Linked DNA regions of Homo sapiens: region 1 is linked to region 2. Evidence: fine-mapped expression QTL. A gene starts in region 2. The other region holds a variant in brackets. All regions are shown on one strand. Distances are between the middles of the regions. Region 1 holds the start of CLEC12A (C-type lectin domain family 12 member A). Region 2 holds the start of CLEC2A (C-type lectin domain family 2 member A).

Evidence for each region.
Region 1: its variant is fine-mapped to the expression of CLEC2A in whole blood (TOPMed, PIP 0.98).

What each region holds. Positions count from the first base shown.
Region 1 is chr12:9,962,012-9,972,635 of GRCh38, reverse strand. CLEC12A (C-type lectin domain family 12 member A) reads right to left here and starts at 1,227. Exons shown (of 6, transcript NM_138337.6): 1 at 949-1,227. The coding sequence starts at 1,039. The variant C/G (reference allele first, on the strand shown) is at 5,576.
Region 2 is chr12:9,926,474-9,937,097 of GRCh38, reverse strand. CLEC2A (C-type lectin domain family 2 member A) reads left to right here and starts at 4,728. Exons shown (of 5, transcript NM_001130711.2): 1 at 4,728-4,823. The coding sequence starts at 4,769. LINC02470 (long intergenic non-protein coding RNA 2470) reads left to right here. Exons shown (of 5, transcript NR_104634.2): 5 at 284-519.

The DNA.
Region 1 (10,624 bases), 36 kb before region 2:
GAGAGAGGACAACAACTTAAATAATATGTGAGAATTTTGGCACTCTTCTCTCCTTATTTTTCTGTTTCTATCACCCTTCTTTGTGTTCTCCACTATCACTGTTTAAGTTATTTTTAACTCAAATACACTGATTTAAACTATGGATTCGCTAGGGCAGATTTCACTCCCAAAAGGCTAGGAGCCAGAAGGCAAGAACCATACATAATAGGAAAACTATAGGATTCTGAGTAAGATGAAGAGTAGTTTTGTTTAAGTGAAAGTCAACACAGATGGACCACTTATTTCATGATTTTAATTTGAATTGAAAAATACAAAGTTACTTGATATAATGTGGTTTTGAATATTATGAATATATTATGTCTTCTGATATTTCTTTACCTCTTTTCTTCCTTTATTCCTTAATGATTCATTTCATTTAACTTAACATGTTTTATTTTTTAGTAAGTTAGTAAAAAATCTCCAAAAGAAGTAGGAGAAATTTTAGGGTGATTTATGCTTAGTTTGGTAGATAGTCAAATGAAATCCTATAAAGGTCTCTCTGTCTGACACAAAGCATTTTCTTATAAAAAAAAAAACACACACACACACACACATATGAAATCATGACTTTCCTGAACATGTTTCTTTTTCCATGGCTTCATCTCATAAAGAAATAAAATCTTCATACAACCCAATCATTTGAAAAATTCTGTCCCAATTATATTGAGTGTGATAATAAAAAATTTCAAAAATGTAAAAGATTGATTATTCAATGCAGAGATAAGTGTTTTTACAAAACCCTTTTTTCTAATCATTTTGTTCATACACTTTTTGTTCCTTTGCTTAAACATAAGAGACTTAATTGAAAATTTAAGTTGAATAGTAACTATATCACTAATATTGAAGATGCAAGTCTATAACCACTTCTATTATACAAACTTACAACACATCCATAACTCAAAATCTTACCTTTTTCCCCAAATTTGCCAATTTCTGGGATTTTTTCCATCTCACTGGAGTTCTGGAATTGAAGATCTGCATAAGTAACTTCTTCAGACATTGATGAATATGTAAAGAAATCTTGACAAAGTGTAAAAACACAAAAAGATGAGTGAGTTAACAGAGCTGAATGTTAAACAGGACCTATAATTTTAAACTTCTGTTTATAAACGGAAGCTTAAGCTTACAAGTTTAAACTTCTGTTTATAAACCTACTGTACCAATCACCCATATGTCTGCAAATGAGCCAAATCTCATCTGTGGCTTCAGTTAAGAACATTGAACTGTTGCAACAGATAACATCTTTCTTCCTCATATTTCTTCCTTTTTCTCAATTTCTATATATTTACCAACTACAGAAAGTAGTTTTTGAAATTGTGTTTGGATAACATCATCAGTGTCATGCAAGAGAACACAAATAACTAGCACCACATGGTGCAGACATAGTGTAGGATTTATTGGTGAAAAACTTTCAAGCAGAAAAATAACAGAAAAGATGCAGTTCTCAGACACTCACTAATCTGCAGCTGTGGCCTGGCATAGATATTCCTTTTGTATGATGATGAAGGTCCTGATAGAAGGGTTCTCTTCACTGGGAGACTGAACATACAGAGAGCACTCCCAAGGAGAATGAGACAGTTAGTGTCATTCCGTTGCCATGTTACATAGCTATAGGTTTGCCTAAGAGAGGTAGGGAATGCCTAGTTTCTCTAAATAACAATATATAGGTTGGTGCTAAAGTAATTCTGGTTTTTGCCATTAAAAGCAAAAGTAATTGTGGTTTTTGCCATTAAAAGTTTACAAAATTACTTTAGCGCCAACCTATATATTAAGGGATCTGATGCCCAGAAACCACACCAGAGAGTATGCATACTGATGGCCAAGGTCTGTATACTGAGGGCTCTGGAAACAGCTTTGCAGGCCAGGAAAACTATAATCAGCCTTGCTATCTCTCTACAGACTGACTCAACCATTTGATCTCCTCCTCAGCTAAGCTATCAAAAGTGGGAGGGAAATGAGTCTCCAAAGTCCAGATTTGTGTCTTATTAGTTTGACTCAATAGTCTTAGTATTTTTTATTTCACTTCTTGATCAAGAATGCAAGTGGAAGTGAGGGGGTGGAGAGGACTGTTTTTGAGCATGTTCTCTAATATTCGTTAGTAAATCTTACTTTAAAATTCTTCTTGACATTGCCACATGTAAATCATAAAATGGTTAGGTATTATTATTATACATATGAAAGAGAATGCATAAATATTTTTAAAAATCAATTAAAAACTAATTGCTTTATTATGTCAGGATAGACAGGAAAAACAAAATGCTCCCTTTATAAGAGCTACTAAAAATAAATAGGAAAATATTACAGATAGAAATTAACTAGATATTTGCATAACCAAAATGAACAAAAAAATTTTAAAACTATTGAAGAAAAGAAAAAAATAGAAAAACATGCTGTGGGATTAGAAGCGTCAATACTGTATAAAAAGAAACTAAATTCTCCTAAATGTATCAAAAATTCAATGTCAATTTAATTAAAACAACTGATTTTCTCCTGATAAAGAAAAAGCTATTGAATACATTTGAAAATATTACCATGAAAATATTGGCAGCCACATTTAAAGGAAAATATATTCAAAACATGATTACTTCATCCTAAGTACTTTACTAATGTTGCTTTTATCTTTACAACTCTCTAAACCAGGTGCTATTATTATCACCCTTATTTTACAGATGCGGAAGTGAGTTGCAAAGTGGTTAAGTTTGTATCCAACATCACACAGTTGGTGAGTGGTAGAGTTGAGACCATCAAAGTCTCTGGTTGCCTTGTTCAAATATGTGCACAGGCTATAAGGCCTCTCCTGGTGGGAAAGAGTAGCCCTCTATTTTTCCTAGGTGGATCAAATATTTGCATATAAATATTTGTTTATAAATATCTCTTTGTTTGTGAAAGGATGGAAACCGGCCACCACACAGGCAGAGTCCTGTTCTGTGTTCTATTGCTCTGCTGTCTCATGTGGAACGTTGTTTCATCAATCAACACTAGAAGATGAAGCGTATATGACGAACTGTAAAGGGAAACAAATGAAAAATCTCAAAGTCCTGTTTGCAAGGTACTCTATTTTGTTGAAAATATTTGAATAAGTATTACTTCATACAAAATCCTTGGTTTAGAGCCAGCTAAAACATTTATATCCACAAGAATAAGCTGAGCTCTGAGATGACTACATGGTTTGCCCTTCACAGCCTATATCAGTTTTTTAAAAATTTTGTTATTGATACAAAATAGTTGTATGTATTTTGGAGGTACATGTGATATTTTGAAACCTGTATACAATGTGTAATGACCAAATCAGGGTAATAAGAATATTCATTCCGTCAAACACTTACCTTTTCCTTCTGTTGGGAATAGTACATTTCTTCTCTTTTAGCTATTTTGAAATATACAATAAATTATTGTCAACTATAGTTTTCCCACTGTACTATCAAATACTAGAATTTGTTCCTTCTATCTAATTTTATTTTTGTACCCAACCAACTTATCTTTATCCCCCACCACCCCTTTCTAAGCCTCTGGTAACCACAATTCTACTCTCTGCTTCCATGAGATTCATTCTTTTAGCTCTCACATATGAGTGGAAACATGTGATATTTGTCTTTCTGTGCCTGGCTTATTTCAGTTAACATAATGACCTTCAGTTCCACTCCTGTTTCTGCAAATGACAGGATTTCATTTCCTTCTATGGCCAAATAATATTCCATTGTGTATATATACTATAGATACCTGCACTCCCATGTTTATTGCAGCACTATTTGCAATAGACAAGATATGAAATCAACCTATATCAATTTTCATTCTAGTTGAATACTAAGAGACAATCTGCAAATATAATTACAGATGTCTTCCAATATTAAACATAAGTGATACATTATCCATTACCTAAATTATATATTTTTTGTGGGTTGTTATTGTCAGGCCTCTGAGCCCAAGCTAAGCCATCATATGCCTGTGTATATGCCTATGACCTGCATGTACACATCCAGATGGCCGGTTCCTGCGTTAACTGATGACATTCCACCACAAAAGAAGTGAAAATGGCCTGTTCCTGCCTTAACTGATGACATTATCTTCTGAAATTCCTTCTCCTGGCTCATCTTGGCTCAAAAGCTCCCCTATTGAGCACCTTGTTACCCCCACTCCTGCCCGCCAGAGAACAACCCCCCTTTGATGTAATTTTCCTTTACCTACCCAAATCTTATAAAACAGCCCCACCCCATCTCCCTTCGCTGACTCTCTTTGCAGACTCAGCCCACCTGCACCCAGGTGAAATAAACAGCCTTGTTGCTCACACAAAGCCTGTTTTGTGGTCTCTTCACACGGATGCGAGTGAAATTTGGTGCTGTGACTCGGATCAGGGGACCTCCCTTGGGAGATCAATCCCCTGTCCTCCTGCTCTTTATTCCATGAGAAAGATCCACCTATGACCTCTGGTCCTCAGACCAACTAGCCCAAGGAACATCTCACCAATTTTAAATCCAGTAAGTGGCCTCTTTTTACTCTCTTCTCCAACCTCTCTCACTATCCCTCAACCTCTTTCTCCTTTCAATCTTGGCATCACCCTTCAATCTCTCTCTTAATTTCAGTTCCTTTCCTTTTCTGACAGAGATGAAGGAGACGCGTTTTATTCATAGACCCAAAACTCCGGCACCAGTCACGGAATTGGGAAGACAGTCTTCCCTTTGGAATCAGGCAGGGATGCCTGCCTGATTATTCACCCATGTTTCAGAGGTGTCTGACCATGTGGGGACACCTGCCTTGGTCCTTCACCCTTAGCGACAAGTACTGCTTTTCTTGGGAGCAAGAACCCCCAACCCCTTCTCTCCGTGTCTCTACTCCTTCTCTGCTTTTCTGGGGGGCAAGAACCCCACCGCTTTTCTCCATGTCTCTACCCCTTCTCCGCTTTTCTGGGGGGCAAGAACCCCCCAACCCCTTCTCCTTCACCCTTAGCGGCAAGTACCGCTCTTCTTGGGGGCAAGAACCCCCAACCCCTTCTCTCCATGTCTCTACTCTCTCTTCTCTCTGGGCTTGCCTCCTTCACTATGGGCAAGCTTCCGCCCTCCATTCCCCCTTCTTCTCCCTTAGCCTGTGCTCTTAAAAACCTAAAACCTCTTCAATTCACAGCTGACCTAAAACCTAAATGCCTTATTTTCTTCTGCAATGCCACTTGACCCCAATACAAACTCGACAGTAGTTCCACATAGCCAGAAAATGTCACTTTCCATTTTTCCATCCTACAAGATCTAAATAATTCTTGTTGTAAAATAGGCAAACGGTCTGAGGTGCCTGACGTCCAGGCATTCTTTTACACATTGGTCCCTCCCTAGTCTCTGTTCCCAATGCAACTCATCCCAAATCTTCCTTCTTTCCCTCCCGCCTGTCCCCTCAGTCCCAACCCCAAGCATCGCTGAGTCTTTCTAATCTTCCTTTTCTACAAACCCATGTGACCTCTCGCCTCCTCACCAGGCCGAGCTAGGTCCCAATTCTTCCTCAGCCTCCACTTCTCCACCCTGTAATCCTTTTATCACCTCCTCTCCTCACA[C/G]CTGGCCCAGCTTACAGTTTCATTCCATGACTAGCCCTCCCCAACCTGTTCAGCAATTTCCTCTTAAAAAGGTGGCTGGAGCTAAAGGCATAGTCAAGGTTAATGTTCCTTTTTCTTTATCCCAAATCAGATAGCGTTTAGGCTCTTTTTCATCAAATATAATAACCCAGCCCAGTTCATGGCTCGTTTGGCAGCAACCCTGAGACGCTTTACAGCCCTAGATCCTAAAAGGTCAAAAGGCCGTCTTATTCTCAATATACATTTTATTACCCAATCTGCTCCCGACATTAAATAAAACTCCAAAAATTAAATTCCAGTCCTCAAACCCCACAACAGGACTTAATTAACCTCGCCTTCAAAGTGTACAATAATAAAGTAGAGGCAGCAAAGTAGCAACATATTTCTGAGTTGCAATTCCTTGCCTCCACTGTGAGACAAACCCCAGCCACATCTCCAGCACGCAAGAACTTCCAAACGCCTAAACCACAGTGGCCAGGCATTCCTCCAGGCCTGCCTCCCCCAGGAGCTTGCTAAAAGTGCCAGAAATCTGGCCACCTGGCCAGAGAATGCCCGCAGCCCAAGATTCCTCCTAAGCCATGTCCCATCTGTGCAAGACCCCACTGGAAATCAGACTGTCCATCTCACCGGCAGCCACTCCCATAGCCCCTGGAACTCTGCCCCAAGGCTCTCTGACTGACTCCTTCCCAGATCTTCTCGGCTTAACAACTGAAGACTGTCACTGCCCAATCACCTCAGAAGCCTACAGGACCATCACAGACACTCTAGGTAACTCTCACAGTGGAGGGTAAGCCCGTCCCCTTCTTAATCAATACGGAGGCTACCCACTCCACATTACCTTCTTTTCAAAGGCCTGTTTCCCTTGCCTTCATAACTGTTGTAAGTACTGATGGCCAGGCTTCTAAACCTCTTAAAACTCCCCAACTCTTGTGCCAACTTAGACAATACTCTTTTAAGCACTCCTTTTTAGTTATCCCCACCTGCCTAGTTCCCTTATTAGGCTGAGACACTTTAACTAAATTATCTGCTTCCCTAACTATTCCTAGGCTACAGCCACACCTCATTGCCACCTTTTCCCCCAGGTCAAAGCCTCCTTCACATCCTCCCCTTGTATCTCCCCACCTTAACCCACAAGTATAGGACACCTCTACTGCCTCCTTAGCGACTGATCCTGCACCCCTTACCATCCCATTAAAACCTAATCACCTTACCCCGCTCAATGCCAATATCCTATCCCACAGCACGCTTTAAAAGGATTACAGCCTATTATCACTCTCCTGCTACAGCATGGCCTTTTAAAGCCTATAAACTCCCCTTACAATTCCCCCATTTTACCTGTCCTAAAACCAGACAAGGCTTACAGGTTAGTTCAGGATCTGTGCCTTATCAACCAAATTGTTTTGCCTAACCACCCCATGGTGCCAAATCCATATACTCTCCTATCCTCAATATCTCCCTCCACAACCCATTATTCTGTTCTGGGTCTCAAACATGCTTTCTTTACTATTCCTTTGCACCCGTCATCCCAGCCTCTCTTCACTTTCACTTGGACTGACCCTGACACCCATCAGACTCAGCAAATTACCTAGGCTGTATTGCCGCAAGGCTTCACAGACAGCCCCCATTACTTCAGTCAAGCCCAAATTTCTTCCTCATCTCTTACCTATCTCAGCATAATTCTCATAAAAACACATGTGCTCTCCCTGCTGATCATGTCCGGCTAATTTCCCAAACCCCAATCCCTTCTACAAAACAACAACTCCTTTCCTTCCTAGGCATGGTTAGGGCAGTCAGAATTCTTACACAAGAGCTGGGACCGCACCCTGTAGCCTTTCTGTCCAAACAACTTGACCTTACCATTTTAGCCTAGCCCTCATGTCTGCATGCAGTGGCTGCCGCTGCTTTAATACTTTTAGAGGCCCAAAAAATCACAAACTATGCCCAACTCATTCTCTACGGTTCTCATAATTTCCAAAATCTATTTTCTTTCTCCCACCTGACGCATACACTTTCTGCTCCCTGGCTCCTTCAGCTACACTCCCTTTTTGTTAAGTCTCTGACAATTACCATTGTTCCTGGCCCAGACTTCAATCCAGCCTCCCACAGTATTCTGGATACCACACCTGACCCCTATGACTGTATCTCTCTGATTCACCTGACATTCACCCCTTTTCCTCATATTTCCTTCTTTCGTGTTCCTCACCCTGAACACACTTAGTTTATTCATAGTAGTTCCACCAGGCCTAATCGCCACACACCAGCAAAGGCAGGCTATGCTATAGTACAAGTCACCAGCCCACCTCTTAGAACCTCTCATTTCCTTTCCATCGTGGAAATCTATCCTCAAGGAAATAACTTCTGTTCCATCTACTATTCTACTCCTCCTCATAGATTATTCAGGCCCCCTCCTTTCCCTACACATCAAGCTCGAGGATTTGCCCCCACCCAGGACTGGCAACTCTTAACTCCCTCTCAGAGGGGATAGATAATCTTTGCTGGCAGGGGACCCTCCAATACTTTCACCCTGATGAAGTTCTATTCTTTACTTTTATACTCAATCTTATTCTCATTCCCATTCTTATGCCACCCTCTACCTCTCCCCAGCTATCTCCACCACACTATAAACATTACTCATTCTCTCCTAGCTGTTTCTAATCCCTCCTTAGCGAACAAACTCTAGCTTTGCATTTCCCTTTCTTCCAATGCCTACACAGCTGTCCCCACCTTACATGCAGACTAGGCAACATCTCCTGTCTCCTACACCTCCAAACTTCCTTTAACAGCCCTCACCTTTACCCTCCTGATGAACTCATTTACTTTCTAGACAGGTCCAGCTAGACCTCCCCAGACATTTCACGTCAGCAAGCTGCCGCCCTCCTCCACACTTACTTAAAAAACCTTTCTCCTTGTATCAACTCTACTCCCCCCGTATTTACCTCTCACAACACAAACTACTATTCCTGTGGCTGCTCCTTTATGTATCTCTCAGCAAAGACCCACTGGAATTCCCCTGGGTAACCTTTCACTTTGATGTTCCTTTACTCTTCATCTCCAAAGCCCTCTTGTTGTTTACTTATACCCAGCCCCATAAATAACAGTGAAAGGTAGCTCATAGACACTCAACATTTTCTCATACACCATGAAAATCGAACCTCCCCCTCTACGCAGTTACCCCACCAGTCCCCATTACAACCTCTGATGGCTGCTGCCCTAGCTGGATCCCCAGGAGTCTGGGTACAAGACACCCCTTTCAGCACTCCTTCTCATCTTTTTACTTTGCTTCTCCAGTTTTGCCTCGCACAAGGTCTCTTCTTCCTCTGTGGATCCTCTACCTCCATGTGTCTACCTGCTAATTGGACAGGTACATGCACACTAGTTTTCCTTACTCCTAAAATTCAATTTGCAAATAGGACCGAAGAGCTCCCTGTTCCCCTCATGACACCGACACGACAAAAAAGAGTTATTCCACTAATTCCCTTGCTTATCAGTTTAAGACTTTCTGCCTCCACTATTGCTCTCGGTACTGGAATAGGAGGCATTTCAACCTCTGTCACGACCTTCCATAGCCTCTCTAGTGTCTTCTCTGCTAGCATCACAGACATATCACAAACTTTATCAGTCCTCCAGGCCCAAGTTGACTCTTTAGCTGCAGTTGTCCTCCAAAACCGCTGAGGCCTTGACTTAGTCACTGCTGAAAAAGGAGGACTCTGTATATTCTTAAATGAAGAGTGTTGTTTCTACCTAAATCAATCTGGCCTGGTGTATGACAACATAAAAAACTCAAGGATAGAGCCCAAAAACTTGCCAACCAAGTAAGTAATTATGCTGAACCCCCTTGGACACTCTCTAATTAGATGTCCTAGGTCCTCCCAATTCTTAGTCCTTTAATACCTGTTTTTCTCCTTCTCTTATTCTGTTTAGTTTTTCAATTCATACAAAACCGTATCCAGGCCATCACGAATAATTCTAAATGACAAATGTTTCTTCTAGCAACTCCACAATATCACCCCTTAGCATGAAATCTTCCTTCAGCTTAATCTCTCCCACTCTAGGTTCCCACATCGCCCCTAATCCCGCTGGAAGCAGCCCTGAGAAATATCGCCCGTTATCTCTCCATACCAAGCCCCCAAAATTTTTGCCGTCCCAACACTTTACCACTATTTCATTTTTATTTTCTTATTAATATAAGGAGACAGGAATGTCAGGCCTCTGAGCCCAAGCTAAACCATCCTATCCCCTGTGACCTGCACATACACATCCAGATGGCCGGTTCCTGCCTTAACAGATGACATTCCACTACAAAAGAAGTGAAAATGGTCTGTTCCTGCCTTAACTGATGACATTATAAAATTCCTTCTCCTGGCTCATCCTGGCTCAAAAGCTCCCCCACTGAGCACCTTGTGGCCCCCACTCCTGTCCGCCAGAGAACAAGCCCCCTTTGACTGTAATTTCCCACTACCTACCCAAATCTTATAAAACAGCTCCACCCCTATCTCCCTTCGCTGACTCTCTTTTCGGACTCAGCCCACCTGCACCCAGGTGAAATAAACAGCCTTGTTGCTCACACAAAGCCTGTTTGGTGGTCTCTTCACACGGATGTGAGTGAAAGTTATAACGGAAAAAAGGGAAAGAAATGAAGACAGGTGAAGAAAAGTGCACAGGGATAAAAATTTGGAGACACACACCTTCAGAGTCACATAATTTAAAAGTTGAGAGACCACAGTGACAGTGATATACTCAGGTACCAAAAAGAAACACACACTTGGGATCCAAAAAAAAAAAAAAAAAAGAAAAAACCGGTTATACATTAAAAGGAAAATTTAAGAAGATAAAATAACAGGACAATTTACAAGATAGAGATAAGACCAAAGGAAACCATGAGGGATAGTGAAATACCCCAGGGCTAGCTACTGCCGGAAGCCATTACTACATTAGGCCTGAGAGAACATTGCTGGTAGCAATTAACTGAAGCAGCAGAAACTATAGCTGATGAAGGCTGCCTCCCTGGAGGTACACTCAGCGAGAACAACT
Region 2 (10,624 bases):
AGTGTCCTTTTCTTCCTGCCATCAGGGTCCTGAGGTAAAATTTGGAGAAAGATAGGAGGAGAGCAACAGCTTGTTTCACTTCCTCTACTCCTTCCACACTGCACGTGTTTTAGAAACCGGGCTAATGAAATTTACGTTCTATTTTCGAGGCTGTGCTCAGTTATTTCTCAGGAGGTCCAGTAAATAAAGAATTAATCTATTTGTTTTGTCTTTAGTCAAGTTATGAAACTAGCGAATTATTTACATTAAGTGGATTTGTTGTTGCTGTCGTTGCTGAAACTAGTGAAAGAATCGAGTTTTGTGCTATGAGTCATGGGAGCAAAACGTGAGTATTTAGAAGTGGAGAGGACCACGAAGAAGGAAGCCCTGGTGACTTGAAGAAATCATGGAGAGTTCTCCGGATTCCCACAAACCTATGGGGTTTAGATTCCAGCTAATACTTACACGGGTCTCAGAAGGACAGAGGGCAAGGGTTAACATCTGGCTGATATTAAAGTCTCTGCACCTCTTAATATTTTACTTTGGCCTAGTTTTCTTTTCTTCGCTTTTACATTTCCTGATATAATGAGTAATTCTCTTTTGAGTATTAACTTGTACCATGAACTATGCTAAATATTTTTACCCCTAAATGATGAAGAATTTTTATCATTTTTTGCTGAAATAAATGAGCAAATGAAAGATTGTTTACCTGGGATTATAGTAAATGGTAGAACCACATTTTAAATTCAGCTGGGTCTCACACACATTACAGACATTCAAACAATGTGGAAAATAATATTGAAAAAATAGATGGTTGGCCGGGTGCGGTGGCTCATGCCTGTAATCCCTGCACTTTGGGAGGCTGAGGTGGGCGGATCACGAGGTCAGGAGATGGAGACCATCCTGGGTAAGATGGTGAAACCCCTTACCCTCTACTAAAAAATAGAAAAAATTAGCCGGGCGGGGTGGCGGGCGCCTGTAGTCCCAGCTACTCGGGAGCCTGAGGCAGGAGAATGGTGTGAACCCGGGAGGCGGAGCTTGCAGTGAGCAGAGATCGCGCCACTGCACTCCAGCCTGGGTGACAGAGCGAGACCCCGTCTCAAAAAAAAAAGAAGAGAAAAAATAGATGGTATGTTCAGCATCATCAGAAGCAAATTTTATCAGCATCTCATCTTCTCATTCTCTATGGGGCCGGGATTTAATAGTGTGTAAACCGTGTTAGCAGGTTAAATGCAGGTGTTGTTAAATTATAATTTACATGCTGTACTGTACAAGAACAAAAATAATTCTAAAATTTTCAGATTATTGTGCTACAAAAAATGACCATCGTTAGCAAAAGGAGGATGGGGAATGAGACTTATGCATTTTTAAGGTCATTAAACATCTCCATTAGCCATCTCTGGAGTGGTGACTATCACATTAGAAGGGGACCGCTTTGCATCTCCTAATGATGACATTTCTATCCAGCTGTACTGAAATAGAAATAATGTTAAAAGGAGTCAGAGCGCCCAGTGGAGAAAATTTGACAGGTAAAGAAGAAAAGAGAAAGGAACAAATAATGGGCTGCGGGTTGAATTTTATGAACATGAGCAGAACTTTGAACATTTTTAAGTATAGTTATTCAGGCTAGGTGAGTGGATTGCATCCCCTTCCAACTTATTCTGAGGACAGTACCCAGAGTGAACATATTAAATGTATGTCAGATCACACCGCTATTCTGCTCAAAAGAATTTTCCATCTTCCCATTTCACTTAGAATATTAGCCACAGGCCTCAGAATGGCAAAAACAGAATTACCCTGTTGGTACTTAGCTGAACTCTTCTCTCACTGTTCTCCTCCAGACACAGCTGGCTTCCTCACTCTTTCCGGAATGTGCCAGGCATACATCTGCCCTAGGATCTTCACACAATTCCACCAGGATGATGGTATCCACATGGCACTTTCCCTCCTCAAAGTTCATTTACATTTCACTTTCTCAGTGATGCTTACCCTGACTACCCTATTAAAATTGCAGCTCACACTCCTCAACCTTGACATTACTAATCAATTTTAACCTGGTCTATCTTTTGTTTTCAGTGGAACTTATTACATACTGGAATATGGAATATTGTACCATTTGTTTACTATCTTTAGTCTTTATGTTTAAACTTCCTGGAATGGAAACCCCATGAGTAAAGGAATCTGTGTCTATTTTGTTCACAGACGTATTTCAAGCACCCTGAAAAATGCCAAGTACTAATTAGGCATTCTGTAAATGTTTGTTGAATAAGACAATGAAGAGGCAAATTAAATTAAATACAAAATAGTTTGTTATCCAGGACATTTCTGACTGTATAGCCAAAGCTTTAAAATGAAGATAAGAATAATTTTATAAAATGAATTAGACACATATCAACCCTAGGGAGAATCTTCAAAGTGGTCTGCTCCTTTGAAAAGCCTTAAACAGGAAAGCTTTTATTTAAAGAATGGGCTGGGCATGGTGGCTCACACCTGTAATCCCAGCACTTTGGGAGGCCGAGGCGGGTGGATAACCTGAGGTCAGGAGTTCGAGACCAGCTGGACCAACATGGAGAAGCCTCGTCTCTACTAAAAATACAAAATTAGGCAGGCATGGTGGTGCATGCCCATAATCCCAGCTACTCAGGAGGCTGAGGCAGGAGAATCACTTGAACCCAGGAGGTGGAAGTTGCGTGAGCCGAGATCACACCATTGCATTCCAGCCTGGGCCACAGGAGAGAAACTCCATCTCAAAAAAAAAAAAAAAATGACACTGTGCTTCTGGAAATAACCTAATTATTACCAGAGGAAGGAATTCATGTCTATGCCATACAAGAGCTTTCACCCTTTAGAAGTGTTTTACGGAAGGTCACACACACACACACACACACACACACTGATCAAATTGCGGAATTCTCTGAAGCATACAGAGAATGGCATTTATTCTGGCAAGAACTGTGCAAATTGTTACAAGAAACATAAGGGATGGCAAGTATGAACAATTATATTTCAACAGATGCAGGAAGCAGTTGAAATATGGCTTCTCAACATCTGGGGCTTGCATACTTGTCATCTGGAAACCAGATTGGGTCAGTTACATGTGGAAAGGAATAAGTTATTGCCAGGCCAAATTTCCATATTAAAAGAAGTCTCCATTACCAGATTCTTTTTTTACAGACACCAAATAGACCAGGGAGTTACTAAAAATGGAAGGAGGTCGTGAGAAAGCAAGTCATACTATGAGTAGGACCTCACCTTATGAATTGCCTCTTTAGCAAAATCAACTGCAGAAAGGAAAGACATTGTCTGTTAAATGAAAGGTAATAAATGGAATTCGCAGGTGGACAAAAATACCTCCTGAAATCCCGTAACCCAGCGGGGTACAGATGAGACACGCCCTCTGCAGATACAGTGTGCAACTACCAGTGTGACTCTGAGTGCCCGTTTTCTGTCTCTGCACCGAAGCACCAAAAGCAAAGATTCCAGGCTGAAGCAAATTTTTTTTTTTTTTTTTTGAGACGGAGTCTTGCTCAGTTGCCCAGGCTGGAGTGCAGTGGCACGATCTCGGCTCACTGCAAGCTCCGCCTCCCGGGTTCACACCATTCTCCTGCCTCAGCCTCTCGAGTAGCTGGGACTACAGGTACCCGCCACCAGGCCCGGCTAATTTTTTGTATTTTTAGTAGAGACGGGGTTTCATTGTGTTAGCCAGGATAGTCTCGATCTCCTGACCTCATGATCCACCCGCCTCGGCCTCCCCAAGTGCTGGGATTACAGGTGACAGACACCGCGCCCAGCCAGTTTTACAGCTTTTTATAAAGATAAACATACTTATATGATGCAGCAATTCAATTTCTGGGAATTTATCCAAGAGAAAACTTGCTCACACAAAAATGCCTGTGTACAGCAGTTTCATACATAACAGTCCCACCCTAGAAACAAAAGTCCATCAACTAGTGATCAAAGAGATAATTTCTGGTATAACATGCAATAGGAATACTACTAAGAAATAAAAGGGAATGAACTACTTACCTGCACAACAACTTGAGTGAATCTCAAAAGTATTATAAATGAAATAAGCAAGAGACAAGACACTACATATTATATGATACCATTTATATAAAATTCTATGAAAGGGGCTGGCCGTGGTGGCTCATGCCTGTAATCCCAGTACTTTGGGTGACTGAAGCCAGAAGATCACTTAAGCCCAGGAGTTCAAGACCAGTCTGGGCAATATAATGAGACCTAGTCTCTACAAAAAATAAAATTAGCAGGGCATGATGGTGCGCGACTGTAGTCCCAGCTACTTGGGTGGGTAGGGCAGGAGGATTGCTTGAGCCAAGGAGGTCAAAGTTGCAATGGGCCAAGTTTTCCCCACTGCACTCCAGCCTGGGCAACACAGTGAGACCCTGCCTCAAAAAAAAAAAATTCCATGAAAGGAAAAACTATGTTGATATAAAGCAAAGTAATGCTTGCCAGGGTCCAGGGTCAGAAAAGATAGTGATTACACAAGGAAAAAAAGAAAGATGATGGAAATGTTCCATAGCACGGTTGTTGTGGTGTTTACATGATTGACTTTACGATCCTTTTGTTATGGATGAGTTAATTTTTAAATTCCTTCCTTAAACTAACAAGTCTGCCTACTTTTATCTTTGATCTAAAATTAGTACTGATGTTTTCCATTTGGATTGGTTAAGTCTCTTTTGACTGAAGCTTGCTCAGTGCCTAAATAAGTGATGTACATGAAAAGCTTTCTAGTCCTCTCCTACTGATCTCCATCGGTTAGCGCCTTGCCATGATTAATCCAGAGCTGCGGGATGGCAGAGCTGATGGCTTCATACATCGGATAGGTAAGTTTTATAGAGTGAATGAGAAGGAAGTAAAGGAAAGATAAAACAAAATACAGGACAGCTTAAAAATATGGACTCTTTACTTACTGTGAAAGTCTACTAAAGTAAGTGAGGGATGGGGAAGCACTTCCGGAGAATTGTGGAAGCCTGTTAGAGCATGTAGAGTTTTATGTCTGCAAGAGAGGGTATAAGCTTGTGTGTAAGAAGGTTTTGGGGCAGAATTTTATGGTACGTGTATTATATCTCAATAAGAATATTTTTAAAATGTACTTTCACAGGGAAAAAATTGCTTAACACTTTTATACAGAATAAAAAGCAAATGCTTCACTCTGGAAGGAGGCTTGATGATTGTGACTTCATAAGACTGAAAAGAACTTTTCAAAAATTTTAAGATTCAGCTAAGGCCAACAATGAAGTTTGTTTTCAGTGGATTGAAACATAAACAAACCAATAAATAAAAACAAGGTACACATACAAACACCCTCCATTCACAATAGTTCTGAGGGTTTATGTTAAAGAAAACGAATGAATTGTATGCCAAATGACTGGAATAGGAAGCCTGCCAAAACTTTAAGATAAAGACAGTGAAGAGATAAAAAGTAAAATCTTGAAATGAGTTAAGGACTCCAGCTGAAACCACTATCAGAGTTTACTGATATGAATTCCCAGGGCAATTGGGATAATTCTTTTAATAATAAGTAAGCCTGATACTCTTAAAGGTTGAAGAGACCTCAGTAGCTACCTAGTAAAACTTTTCATCTACCATACGATTTCTAGCTACAGCATTTCTAGCAGCCTATACTAGAATGTTTTCAGTGATAATATCTCTCTGTCTTAGAAGACTTTCCATTTTAATTTAAGGATGTTCTATTTAGAAGTTTCTTTAGGGTAAGGTTAAATTTACTTCGTTGTATATTCTAACTATTGGTCATAGTTACGAACTCTTGATCTATGAAAACTTCATAAGAAAATTTTTAAAAATTAGTCTACATTTTACACAATTGGACATTAGTATTACAAAAAGAAATAAGATTCCATCCCTTTAGCCAAATAAATTAGTCAGGCTTGTCTGGGTAACAGATTTAAGAGTTTAGAGAGTAAAAAGTGGAAGAAAATTTATCTCATTGCATAACGAGAAGACAAAATATGAAGTACTGTGAAGCATGTACTGGAAGATTATGAGAAAGCCGGGCTGCAGGAATCATTAGAACATCTAGTCTGAGAATTTAATTAAAGCATAATAAAAATGCTCCAAAAGAAAAGATATTAATGAAATGAAGAAGCACCAAGAACACAATAAAAACCAAGTGAAAATAATAATTATAGAAATATAGTGTTTGAAATAAAGAACACTTTGAGGAGTTAATTAATAGAATGGACGCTGATTAAGAATGAATAAGACCTAGGAGATGCTATTAAAAACATGACAGAAAAGAAAACAGTTAGAAAATATAAAATAAAAGCTGAGAGATATGAAAAATAGAAGTAGAAATGCCACCTTCTAGATAACAAGAATCTGAAACAGAGAGAGAGAAAAAAAGAATAGCGGATAGGAAATATTTGAAGAAATAATATTCCAACTTCTAAAACTAATAAAAGCCAAATACCTCAAACTGAAACTTCAAAAGTGTACAAACAAAATAGATAAGAAAAAAACATGCATCTGGCACAATAGAGTGAAAGAAAAATATACAAAATTAAAAAATGAGATAATAGGAGACGTTAGTGAAAAAGAGAAGAAATGAGAGGGATAACAAATCAAATGGTGGCTATTAGAAAAGACGAGAGAACTAGATGTCTAAAAGTTTGCAGAAGACGATACAATAAAGAAAATATCAAAAAAGTACAAATAATCACAAAAACCACAAATATTAAAATTTAATAAAACATTATGGAAATAATTCATCAATTATTATGGGGCAAACTCTGTTCCCTTAAAATTTTATATATTGAGGCTCTAACCCCCTCTACCTCAGAATGTGATCTGGTTTGGAGATAGTGTCTTTACCACGTTAAAATTAGGTCGGTAGGTTGGGACCTAATTTAATATTACTGGTGTTCTCATAAAAAAGGAAAATTTAGAGACGGATCCATATACAGGGAGAATGCCATCTTCAAGCCAAGGAGAATGGCCTGGAACAGATTCTTTCCTTACAGGCCTCACAAGGAACCCATCCGACCAACATCTTAATTTCAGACTTCTTGTCTCCAGAACTGTACGACAATACATTCCTGTTAATTTTAGCCGCCCAGTTTGTGACAACTTGTTACGGCAGGCCTAGCAAACTAAAACACTAATGCGCTTATAAATATTAAAAAAAGAAGGTAGAGGTCTAAAAAATATAAAATGCCAAAATGTAATGAGAAGAAATAAATAATTATAGAATTATAGAAATTAAAAATAAATACATTGAAAAGGCAACTAAAATAGAGTAATCTACTGATCTTTCAAGAAATAGCTAATTTTTGTATTGGACATCTTGCTTCAAAAAACAGCAAAATGAGAAATTTACCCCGATTTAATAGACTTTTTGATTTCCAAACAAAGTCAGAACAAGACAAAAAGAAACAGACTCATCTTCTTATGAAATTAGAAGTAGAAATTCCAAGAAAATATTTATTTACTATATACAACAAAGCAGTTAAAAATTCATATACAAGTGGATTTATGTTAGGAATGCTTAGATATCAGAATATCAGTGCAAAAAATATTAAAATTTTTTGAAAGAAAGTCCACACAATTATTCAGTAAGTGCATTTGATAACAACAAGGAAACATGATAACATTCAATGTCTATCTGAGATAAGTCCCTGTTAAGAAACTAGGAATAGAAAAATTCTTTTTTAAATTGCTAATGTTGTATGTTAAATTTATACAGCATTTTTACAGTGCTTAATAATGAAAATTTAAACATTCCATTTAAGATTAAAAACAAGAAAAAAATGTTCACTGTAACTACTACTGTTTAGCAATAGTGTAGTACAATGCTAAAGGTAACCAGTGATATAAGAAAACAAAAGGAATTATAAAGGACAAGGATTGCAATGGAAGAGTTGTATCTGCAATATTTTCAGATAATTTGATTATATAAAAATAAATACCAATAGAATCAACTAGAAAACTATTAAAAATAATACCAGAGTTCAAGAGGGTTACTTAAAAGAGCACATTTAACAAATCAATACTATTTCTGTATACTAGAAGTGTTGTTTTTATTTAGTTTTCTCAGCTTTTTTTTTGTTGTCACTGTGAGAACAGTAGGGATGACTTCCAATCTATTGCAAATATCACATGCCAGAACAGGAATGAAGGACATATATTTTAATTAAAAATAAAAACTGCTAAAGAATTTTCCAAAACACTTATACATTTTTGTACTTCAACCAGTTGTGTATGTGTTTCGGTTCCCCTATATCCTGCTAACACTTGGTGCTGTCAGTCTTTTTCATTTTAACAGTGCAAGTGGCATGTAGTCATATTCCATTGTGGTTTTATTCTGCATTTTGCTTGTGACTAATAATATGGAACATCTTTTATGTGCTTATTGCTCACTTGCGTGTATTCTTCTGTAAGTATTTGTTCAAGACTTTGGTTCTTTTTTTTATCAAGTTGTTTGTACTATATCTCTAAACTACAGACCTTTTAGTATTTTCGATACCAGTCTTTTTTGCATACACATATTGTGACTATTTTCTCCCAGTCTGTAACTTGCATATTTATATTCACAACAGTGTCTTGTATCTTGAAATGGGCAGAGGTTTCTTTCTTTCTTTCTTTCCTTCTTCTTTCTTTCTTTCTTTTTCTTTTTTAAGACAGAGCCTCACTCTGTCACCCAGGCTGGAGTGCAGTGGCATAATTCTGATCACTGCAGCCTCCGCCTCCTGGGTTCAAGTATTCTCCTGCCTCAACCTCCCGAGTAGCTGGGATTACAGGTGCCTGCCATCATGCACAGCTAATTTTTTGTGTTTTTAGTAGAGAAGGGGTCTCACCATGTTGGCCAGGCTGGTCTCAAATTCCTGACCTCAGGTGATCCACCCTCCTTGGCCTCCCAAAGTGCTGGGATTACAGGCATGAGCCACTGTGCCCAGCCCTTAAATTTCAATTAAATTCAATTTATCATTTTCTTTTAATTTTACACTGTACTTTCTCTTCTTTCTCTAAGACAGCTTTACTAATTCTCATGGTCACAAACTATTTTATGTTTTCTAGAAATTGTATGGTTTCAGGTTTTATGTTCAGGTCAATAATACGTCTTAAATAAATTTTGTAAGCTGATGTTGTCGTATGGTAAAGCCTTTTTTTCTCAATTGTTTCAATACCTTTTGTGTAAGACATGGCTTTGCCCACAAATTACTATTTTGGGTGTCTGAAATTTGTGCAGTGGTTTTTATCTTTTCTTCTTCCTTGTTCTTCATTTCTCCCTAATCTTGAAAAAAAAAACACATTTTATGTTTTCTATCTTTAGCTATTGTTTCTCTAGATGTAAGATAAATTACCAAACTCTTCTTCCTATCAAACATTCTCTTTGTAAACATCTCAGAATCTGGCTTCTCTCAATCCAGTCTTGAAATTACTTTATTGCACATTATCTGTAGTCTGGTGATCATGAAAACTAGTAACTTTTTCAAGTTTTCATTCACTAAGGCTGCTTTAAGTTCTGAAGAAAGAGAGAAAACATGACTTCTTTTTAAATTTTTCTTTCTTCAAGTCCTCTTTTCTGATATTTAAATATATGTATGTATATGTACATGTATATATACATACATATAAAGCATATATATGCATATAGGCATGCATACATATATATAATCTGTGTTTATGCATATATGCACGATATACACATATAGTCATGCACCATAGAACAATGTTTTGGTCAATGACAGATTGCATAACAACAATGGTCCCATAAGATTACAATGAAGCTGCCTTGTAAAGGTGTACCATTTTTGATCTTTTATATGGTATTTTCACTGTACCTTTTCTATGTTTAGACGCAAGCATTTAGCATTGTGTTATAATTGCCTGCAGTAATTAGTACGATAACATGCTATCCAGTTTTGTAGTCTAGGAGCAACAGTCTGTAATATATAGCCTAGGTGTTAGTAGGCTATACTGTCTAAGTTTGTGTAAGTACATTCTATGATGTTCCAACAATGACACAATCACCTAAAGGCACATTTCTCAAAATATCTCCCCATTGCTAAGCTATGCATGACTGTACACACACACACACAGACACACACATACACGCACATTCTTCCTAGATTGTTTCTACATCTACTAATGATATATCAGCTACAATTACTTTATCATTAATAGAATTATTATTTGTTCTTAACCTCATAGCATTTCCACGAGTGTCAAATCCTGAGTTTTCTCTAATTTTGTTTGCTTACCACAAATAAATAAATTACTGCTTTTATCTTGAATATTCTCTGGCTGAAACACATTGTTTATTTCCTCCATGGCTTAAAGAATAAAGAAAAATATATCTCTCATTTAAGGTCTTCTGTCATGACCTTATGACTCCTTTCTTTCCTGTCTTTAATCCTATTGCCTTATATATCTGTTATAAACATTTGCTCTAATCGTGGACCTTTTGATGATCTTTATGCCTTTTTGCTTAAAATCCCCCATTCAAACTATTTCTACCTTTTAAGTAAACTTTCCTTTCCTTTCCTTCCTCATTCCCCCAAAACTCAGTGATTTCTCCACTCACCACTCTCTCGAGCCGAACAGCTATAGCAATCATTTTTTGGTACTTATCTTCCTTGCACTTTTTGATGGTTTGCTATCCTTT